Linked DNA regions of Homo sapiens: region 2 is linked to region 1. Evidence: fine-mapped expression QTL. Tissue or cell type: monocytes. Region 1 holds a variant in brackets; the other region holds the start of a gene. All regions are shown on one strand. Distances are from middle to middle.

Region 1 (4,937 bases):
ACATGGAGAAAAGACACATGATGTAGGGGGACTGTGCAGCAGACAAGCTCTCCCATGAAACTGAAATCAGTTCTGAAGGTGAAGAGGTGTGACTTCAGGAGCAGAGAAATAATTATGCCAAAATTGAATAAATATAGCAACCGTCTTAAACACTCACACACACACACACACACACACACACACACACACACACACACACACACACCCCACAAGCAATATCTAGGGTGGTTGCAGGATAACTGGTCCCAGGAGCCCCTGTCCAGGTTTAAATACAGAATCTGAAAGCCCAAAAGATTTAACTACAGAGAATATATAGTCAGGGAAAGAAGGAGATCTTCATTTCATACAGATAGCATTAGACAGACAGCTCCATGAGGGTGGGGGGCATGTCTGTTGCATTCTTCACTACTCCCACATCCCAGCACAGACCTAGGAACAGAGGTGCTTATGAAGGACTTAAACGAAGTAATGTCAGTGAAGGTAGTGGAGTAGGGAACTCCACAACTCCATCCCTTCACAAAAACAGTATGTAAATGGGCAAACACAGAATCAACTTCATTGGAGCTCTTGAATGTCATCAAAAGTTTACAGCCACAGGAGAATGCCTAATCAAGACAAACAGCTGAATCTGGGTAAGAGAGATTTGTGACATTTTAACTGACTCTAGCTGCACACTCTATTCCCCATTTTGCCTTGAGGACAACAACCTGTGTTTCTAGTGCTGAAGGGAACAGAATGCACCTTATTCTCAAAAACCTGTGGCTGTTCTCTTCTGACCTGTCTGCTGGCTCCCTGATGGGCTGGATCAAAGGGCTTCCCTTTATTTGTGTAACTCCAAACTCTCCCAGGTCTGAAGAGGCTACACCTATGGAAGCTGGAGGGTGGAGAGGGAAGTGTGTCCCAACACATCTAAAGGCAAATCAGCCACTGCTCAATGGGGCAAGGGAAAACTGTGAAGCAAACAAAAGACTAACCAAAAAACCTGGGAGGAGAAGTTGGGAACAAGATGCTCTGAGGAGTAGAGCATCTTTCCACACCTTCTTTTCCCCCACAAGATGGAGTCTTGCTCTGTCGCCCAGGCTAGAGTGCAGTGGTGTGATCTCGGCTCACTGCAACCTCCACCTCCTGGGTTCAAGCAATTCTCCTGCCTCAGCCTCCCAAGTAGCTGGGATTACAAGCATTTGCCACCACGCCTGGCTGATTTTTTTGTATTTTTAGTAAAGATGTGGTTTCACCATCTTGGCCAGGCTGGTCTCCAACTCCTGACCTCAGGTGATCCGCCCACCTCAGCCTCCCAAAGTGCTGGGATTACAGGCATGAGCCACTGCGCCCGGCCTCCACACATTTCTAGAAGGCCATGCTCATACCCAGGGATGAACACATGCTCAGAGAAGATCTGAGAAGGCACCAAGCCCTCACCTTTGACTGACCTTCAGGCTCTGCATAAGAAGGAACTGAAGGCTAAGTCAGAGTTGTAAGATGCTTTAGCTGAGTTTTGAAGGCATGCTCCAACATGTAATTCAGATCCATTGGCAAAGACTGGTCATCTTTTGGGTTCCAGGTATTTAAAAAAATCTCTGACAAATTAATCCCAAGCTGAACACTAAGCTAACAGAACAGAGACTTCAGTGGCCACACATGACCAATACAGACGTTACAAAATTAGTTCAGAAATGTCACTAAACAAAGAAACAATACCAACTACAACAAACCTTGGGGAGGGGGGAAATCAGATTTAAAGAACTGCCATATTGTAATATTCTGAAAGTAGTTTTCAGCAAATAAATTATGAGGCATGTAAAGAAACAAAAAAATGGGCCGGGCGCGGTGGCTCATGGCTGTAATCCCAGCACTTTGGGAGGCCAAGGTGGGCGGATCACAAGGTCAGGAGATCGAGATCATCCTGGCTAACACGGTGAACCCTGTCTCTACTAAATATATAAAAAATTAGCGAGGCGTGGTGGTGGGCGCCTGTAGTCCCAGCTACTCGGGAGGCTGAGGCAGGAGAATGGCGTGAACCTGGGAGGCAGAGCTTGCAGTTAGCCAAGATTGCACCACTGCACTCCAGCCTGGGTGACAGAGTGAGACTCCATCTCAAAAAAAAAAAAAAAAAA[AG/G]AAACAAAAAATGAATGAAACTGCATTATAGGAAAAAAGAAATGAACAGAAATTTTCCATAAGGAAACCTAGTCATTGGATTTATTAGGCAACGACTTCAAATCAACTATTTCAAATATGCTCAAGGAGTTAATGGAAACTGTGTACAAAGAACTAATGGAAACCATGAGAATGAATTCTCACCAAATAGAGAAAATCATAAAGAGATGGAAATTATAAAAAGGAGCCAAATAGGAATTTTAAAATTGAAAAATATATATTATCTGAAATGAAAAATGTACTAGAGGGGTTCATCAGAAGACTTGATCAGGCAGAAGACACAATTAGTGAACTTGATGACAGGTCAATTAAGATTGCCTGATCTGTAGAGCAGAAATTAAAAATAAAGGGAAAAAAATGAACAGAGCCTAAGAAACCCAGAAGATACCATCAAACATCTGAATACACATAATGGGAGTTGCTACTGGAGAGGAGACAGAGAAAGGAGCAGAAGGAATATATGGAAAAATTGGCAAGGTGCAATGGGTCACGCTCTAATTACAGCACTTTGGGAAGCCGAGGTGGGAGGATCACCTGAGGTCAGGAGTTCGAGACCAGCCTAGCCAACATGGTGAAACCCTGTCTCTACTAAAAATACAAAAATTAGCTAGCTGTGGTGGTGCGCGTTTGTAATCCTAGCTACTGAGGAGGCTGAGGCAGGGAGAATTGCTTGAACCCAGGAGGCAGAGGTTGCAGTGAGCTGAGATCGTGCCAGTGCACTCCAGCCTGGGCGACAGAGTGAGACTCCGGGAAAAAAAAAAAAAAAGGAATATATGTAAAAATAATGGCCAAACTTTCCCAAATTTGATGAAAATTACAAGTCTACACATCAAAGCAGCTCAAGGATCTCCCAATAGGATACACTTAAAAACTCATACTGAGATACCTTAACATTAAACTGTCAAAAGCCAAAGACAGACTATCCTGAAAAATGGCAAGGGAGAAATAAGTCATCATGTACAAGATTAACAGCTGATTTGTCACCAGAAACCATGGAGGCCGCAAGCCAGTGGGATGATGACATACTCCAAGTACTGAAAGAAAAATATCAACCAAGAATTCTATCTCCTGCAAAACTATCATTCAAGATAGTAAAAAGGCAATCCACTGAATGGGAGGAAATCTTTGAAAATGATATATTTGATAAAGGTCTAGGATGCAGAACATATAAAGAACTCTTACAACTCAATAACGAAAAGGCAAACAATGCCCCCCAAATGGAAAAAGCACTTGAATGAACATTTCTTCAAAAAAGATGTATAAATGGCCAACAAGCACAAGAAAAGATGGCCAATCTCATCATTTTTTTTAGGGAATAGAAATAAAAACCACAATGAGACAGACAACCACAAGAATGGCTATCATAATTTTTTAAAAAAAGGAAAAGAGACAAATGTTGGTAAGGATGCAGAGAAACTAATACGTTGCTGGTCTCATGCACTGCTGGTAGGAATGTAAAATGGTGTAGCAGTTGTAGAAAAGTTTGGACATTCCTCAACACATTAAACACAGAATTACCACAGGACACAGAAGTTCCACTCCTAGGTATATACCCAAGAGAAAACAGGTGCTCAAGCAAAATCTTGTATATGAATGATCATAGCAGCACTACCCACAATAGCCAAAAGATGAGAACAGGCTAAATTTCCATCAGCTGATGAAATGATATATAAAAAGTGGTATATACACATAACGGAATAATATTCAACCATAAAAAGAATGAAGTTCTGCTATGTGCTACAACACAGCTGTACTTTGAAAACATCGGCCAGGCGTGGTGGCTCATCCCTGTAATCCCAGCAATTTGGGAGGCTGAGGTGGGTGGATCACTTGAGGCCAGGAGTTCAAGACCAGCCTGGCCAACATGGTGAAACCCCATCTCTATTAAAAACACAAAAATTTGCTGAGTGTGGTGGCGCATGCCTTTAGTCCCAGCTGTTGAGGAGGCTGAGGCAGGAGAACAGATTGAACCTGGAAGGTGGAGGCTGCAGTAAGCTGAGATCACACCACTGCACTCCAGCCTGGGTAACAGAGTGAAACTCCATCTCAAAAAAAAAAAAAAAAAAAAAGAAAGAAAACATTATGCTAAGCAAAAAGTGAGACACAAAAGACCACATTTTGTATGATTTCATTTATATAAAATGTCAAGAATTGGGCCAGGAATGGTAGCTCACATCTGTAATCCCAGCACTTTGGGAAGCTAAGGCAGGAGGATCACCTGAGCCCAAGAGTTTGAGACCAGCCAGGGCAACATAGCAAGACCCTGTCTCTACAAAAAATAAACAAATTAGCTGGGCGTGGTGGTCCGCACCTGTGGTCCCAGCTACTCAGGATCACGCCACTGCACTATAGCCTGGGTGACGGAGGGAGACACTGTCTAAAAACAACCCCCTCAAAAAGAAGAGACACATCTATAGAGACGGAAAGATTAGTGCCTGCCAAGATGTTCAGGAGGGAGAACTGGGGAGAGACCATTTCATGACTATGGGGCTTATTTTTGGTGTGACAACTATGTTCTGGAATTAGTGGTGATGGCTGTACTACACTGTGAACCTACGAAAAGCCACCAAATTGGACACTTTAAAATAGTTTAAATGGTGACTTTTGTGTCCTGTGTTACCTCAATTTAAAAAAAGAAAAAAAAGACTGACTTCCTGAGTCATTAAATAAATGCAGGAATGACATTAGGCTTACCCAGTGAGGCCAGGTTCCTGCAGTTCTCCAGCATCACGTCCCTGTACAGTGTCCTTTGGGCAGGGTCCAGCAATGCCCACTCCTCCTGG
Region 2 (4,399 bases), 550 kb before region 1:
GATCCCAGCGAGGGCCCCAAGACCTGCCACCTCACACTCAAATGCCACCCTAAATGGCAGATATTGAGGGTAAACATAGACCAGTGCTCACAATGAGGTGGGACACGGTGGCTACCTGCACCCTCTCTCCATTGTTCGCCACCTGTGGCCGGCACTGCCCTTGAGCCCTCCCCCTGGCTGACCCCTCTTCATCCACAGGACGGAGCACAGAAACGAGCTGGGACCCTCAGTCCCCAACCCCTGCTCACCCCTCAGGACCCGACCGCTCTCGGCTTCCGTCGGAACAGCAGCCCCCAGCCCCCGACACAAGCCCCCTGAGGGCCTGAGGCATCCTGGGTCTCACTCGGCCCCCAAAAACTGATAAAAGAATAAAACACTTAAATGAATAACAAGGAACTGAGTATATGTATATTTCATCAGGGGAGGGGCTAGGACTCCCACTTGGAGGCCTCAGGAGTTCTGCTGGGCGTCGCGAAGGAGCTTCTCCTCCCGCCGCTTCCGTAACCTCTCTTTGAATTCCTCTATCTCTTGAAGCTAGGGGTGGAGAAGCGGGTGGGACAGGAAGGGGGGAGGGGCACACACCTCAGAGCCGGGACCACCCCCCCCCGCCCACCTCTCCCACCACCCTGCCCCAGACCACGGCTTCAGGGTTCAGTGTCTTCACTGGAAGCCCCCTGCCAATTACAAAGGGGTCCGCGTGGGATCCGCTTCACTCTTCCAGGAGAAGGCAATAAGGAAACCATCTACTCCTCTGCTCTCGGTTCCTTACTCATGGCTGAGAGTAAAATGTTTCTTTTTGAGACAAAGTCTCACTCTATTGCCCAGGCTGGAGTGCAGTGGCGTGATCTTGGGCTCACTGCAACCTCCACCTCCTGGGTTCAAGTGATTCTTCTCCCTCAGCCTCCCAAGCAGCTGGAATTATAGGCGCCTGCCACCATGCCTGGCTAAGTTTTGTATTTCTGTAGACATGGGGTTTCGCCATGTTGGCCAGGCTGGTTTTGAACTCCTGACCTCAAGTGATCTACCCACCTCAGCCTCCCATGCCCTGGGATTACAAGCATGAGCCACTGCGCCTGGCCTAAAATTTTCATCTAAAACCCATCCCGGATACAAGAATCCAGCCTCCTCCATCCCTCTGGCAGGAAGAAGAGATCACTTACCTTCTCAGGTGGCCACAGCTCCCTCTGTAAGGAAAAGTCACAAATGGGACACGAGCCAAAGGCCTCCAGAGCCCCACATCAGGGCAGGGTCGGCTTATGGGAGGCAGACATTAGTCCCCAGCAGACTGCTGCCCCACACCCTCTCCCACCCCTGGAATGAACCCTCAAACACTCCTCTTATGCCCACCTTGCGCTGTATGACATCGTCCTCAAACCACTCGGCCTGATTGGAAACCCAGAACATAGCCACAGGGAAAGTGAGGTAGATTATCATCTGGAATGGCAGAGGGTGGGTGAGGTGAGCTCCCCCCAAGCAATGTGCAGAGGCTCCTCAGAGCCTGGGGGACCCATCCTACTGCAGAGTCCAGAAGCGCCTCGTTACGGCCGACCCAAGAATCCCAGAACTCCCACCAAGGGTACAGAAACCTCGCACCCTAAAACCTAACTCCTATAATCCAGGAGGCCTCATTCCTGAAAGTTCCCTCTGAGCTGGAGTCTTCCTCTCAAACACAGACAGACACACAGACGCCCCAGCTACAATCAAAAGCATCTCCTCGAGACCTCATTACCCATCCCCACTTAAGATCCCGGGAGCACCCCCAAACCCAGGAGGCGTCACTCTTCAACTCCACTTCTCGAAGTCTAGGAATCTCCCTGTCATAGACACCCACCCACCACGAGCCCGAGAGCTCCCCCAGGATCTTAAGTCTTCCTTCTTTAGAGCCCCCTTCTCAGCTCACCCCTCTCTGAGGTCCTTCCTCGGACCAGCCCTCTCACAGCCCCCAAACCCAGAAGCCCAAATCCGAGAACCCCCCCAGCCCAGCGTCCCCTCTCCTGGATTTCCAACCAGAAAGGTTCCTCTCAAATCTTAAGAGCTTTCTCCTTGGAGCTCCCTCTTCCTTTGAAGTCCCCCCATTTCCAACCTCATCTTCAGATCCAGGAAGATCCCCTGCCCAGCCTCCCAACCCACTCCTGTGTCCACTGACCCGAAATATCTCCAGCTTCACCCCCATCTCGTTTCTCCCGGTCAACAAAGCCAGTTCCGCCCAAAGCCGACCCTCCAGCAAGACAGAAGCTCACTGGTGTTTTGCACGCTCCATTGCTGAAGCTGATTGGCCAATGTGTATCCTGATGGCGCATCTTCTGGCGCCTCTATTCTGCTTCCGGTCGCTGGCGTCGTCGAAAAGAAGTCAATAACGTGGGCCTGTCCGTCAAAAATGATTTAACCAATAGAAAACGGGTCTGGCTCGGAGGGGCGGGCCGTCAGTGGTAGACGTCATAAGCGCGCGACTCTCTCCTGTACCTGGGCATCCAGAAAAATGGTGGTGATGGCGCGACTCTCGCGGCCCGAGCGGCCGGACCTTGTCTTCGTGAGTCCACAGAGGAGCCGGGGGTGGCCTGCGTTGGGGCATTGGGACCTGGACGCCGCAGGGGATCGAGGCTGGGTCGGCAAGGAGATTTAGGCCGAAACTGCCAGGCCAAGGTCTGGGAACCCTAATGGGCCAGAGACCGGATCGTCATGTCCGCACCGAACTGTCCAGGAGTAAAAATATGGTGTTGTATCTTCGGGTCTGAGTAGAAAACCACTGTCGAAGGGAAGCGTCTAGCCTCCCGAACCAGGGGCGGAAATGGGGGCGTGCAGGGAATGGGAGAGGAGGAAGATCGCATAACTGAACCTTGAGAGGTGAAGATCGGTGTCTGAAGTAAAGGCTTGCTTACGAGGCCAGGGTTCTGGTTTCTGGGATGAAGGCTTGGTTTTCTGGATAGCGGTCTCTAGGCCTGGACTGCAGCATGACAGTTTCTGGGGTGGTGGCCAGGCTAGAAGAACCCTGGTGATGTGGAGCTTGTCAGGCGATGGCCAGTGAAATACTTACTCTCTGGAGTAGAGGCGTGACATCTTCACCAGATTCTTGGTGTGCAGAGTTAAAGGCTTGGCTTCTGGTGTATAACTCCTCCTGTGAGATAAAGGCCTAGCTTTTAATTTCTGGGGCAGAGTTGAGCTAGACGCTGGCTAGTGGGATCCTGGGGGCGGGGCTAGTGGCTTGGAATCTGGACCTGAGAGCCCTGGTGGCTGGGGTAAAGATCTGGTCATCTGGGCCTGGGGTGGAGATGGGTCAGATGGTGACAGTGGGAGTCTGAGGGGCCAAAGGCCTGGTGTCTGGGAAGAGGCACGTTTTGAAGAAGTGGGGTCTGGTGTCCAGGACTGGCATCTGGGCCAGGGCCTTGGTATCTAAGGAGTCTGACCATCTGGGGCAGAAAGCGAGTGGTGATGCGGACTCATTCCTGGCCCAGAGCCCTAATGACTGAGAAGTCTGATGATTTGGGTTCGATTTTGGGTAGTTGAATTCTGAGGGGTAAAGGTCTGGGCCACTGTCTTGGTGTCGGGCATCTGGTTTGGTGCCTGGGCATCTGGTGACCTGACTTCCTTGGTGGGTGGTGGGATCTAGGTAAAAGTCCGGAGTTTGGACCTGAGCCCCAGCAGTGGGATGGTGCTGCACACAGGCTCTGAGGGTAGGCCTCTCTTCTTCCCATTCCCTGGCCCTGGCAGGAGGAAGAGGACCTCCCCTATGAGGAGGAAATCATGCGGAACCAATTCTCTGTCAAATGCTGGCTTCGCTACATCGAGTTCAAACAGGGCGCCCCGAAGCCCAGGCTCAATCAGCTATACGAGCGGGCACTCAAGCTGCTGCCCTGCAGGTGGGAATGGCTCCAGCTGCCCTGCCCACCAGCCCCCACCCCACCTGGTCCAGTTATAACAAAACTGCCAAGTGGGTCCCGGGTCCCGGGTGATTGCTTCGTGTTTCATCACTGACCTGTACATCCCTTGATGGGTCAGCACACCTTCTCTGATGTCCCAGTCTGTCCCTGTCATTGCTGAGACATGTCACCCCTCCCACACCCCTTCTTCCCACATTTGCCAACTGGGGCAGGGCAAATGGTTCTGGGGGTGTCCATAAAGCTGACCGATCAGCATCTGTCCCCTCCTATTCCCCAGCTACAAACTCTGGTACCGATACCTGAAGGCGCGTCGGGCACAGGTGAAGCATCGCTGTGTGACCGACCCTGCCTATGAAGATGTCAACAACTGTCATGAGAGGGCCTTTGTGTTCATGCACAAGGTTTGGGGCTCGGCGAGGGGATGAATCGGGAAGTGGAGCTCAGTCCATGGTGGTGGGTGGGGCGGGGACAGGGGCTGGGCTCAGCATGTTAGGGATGGGGGCTTGGATTCCTGTTGCTTC

Evidence for each region. PIP is the estimated chance that this variant, and not a neighbour inherited with it, causes the effect.
Region 2: XAB2 starts here. The variant in region 1 is fine-mapped to the expression of XAB2 in monocytes (CEDAR, PIP 0.95).

Annotation. Positions count from the first base shown.
Region 1 is chr19:7,076,419-7,081,355 of GRCh38, reverse strand. ZNF557 (zinc finger protein 557) reads right to left here. Exons shown (of 8, transcript NM_024341.3): 5 at 4,849-4,937. Among named protein-coding and RNA genes, the nearest start is that of ZNF557, 9.2 kb to the right of the region's middle. RefSeq lists a silencer at 3,032-3,232. The variant AG/G (reference allele first, on the strand shown) is at 2,115.
Region 2 is chr19:7,627,608-7,632,006 of GRCh38, reverse strand. It overlaps XAB2 (XPA binding protein 2), which reads left to right and starts at 2,462. Exons shown (of 19, transcript NM_020196.3): 1 at 2,462-2,530; 2 at 3,709-3,857; 3 at 4,156-4,279. The coding sequence starts at 2,480. PET100 (PET100 cytochrome c oxidase chaperone) reads right to left here and starts at 2,214. Exons shown (of 4, transcript NM_001171155.2): 1 at 2,147-2,214; 2 at 1,348-1,434; 3 at 1,161-1,184; 4 at 51-534. The coding sequence starts at 2,173. The coding sequence ends at 451. PCP2 (Purkinje cell protein 2) reads left to right here. Exons shown (of 4, transcript NM_174895.3): 4 at 199-392. The coding sequence ends at 318. It also overlaps a transcript of STXBP2 not described here. RefSeq lists enhancers at 2,121-2,170, 2,431-2,550.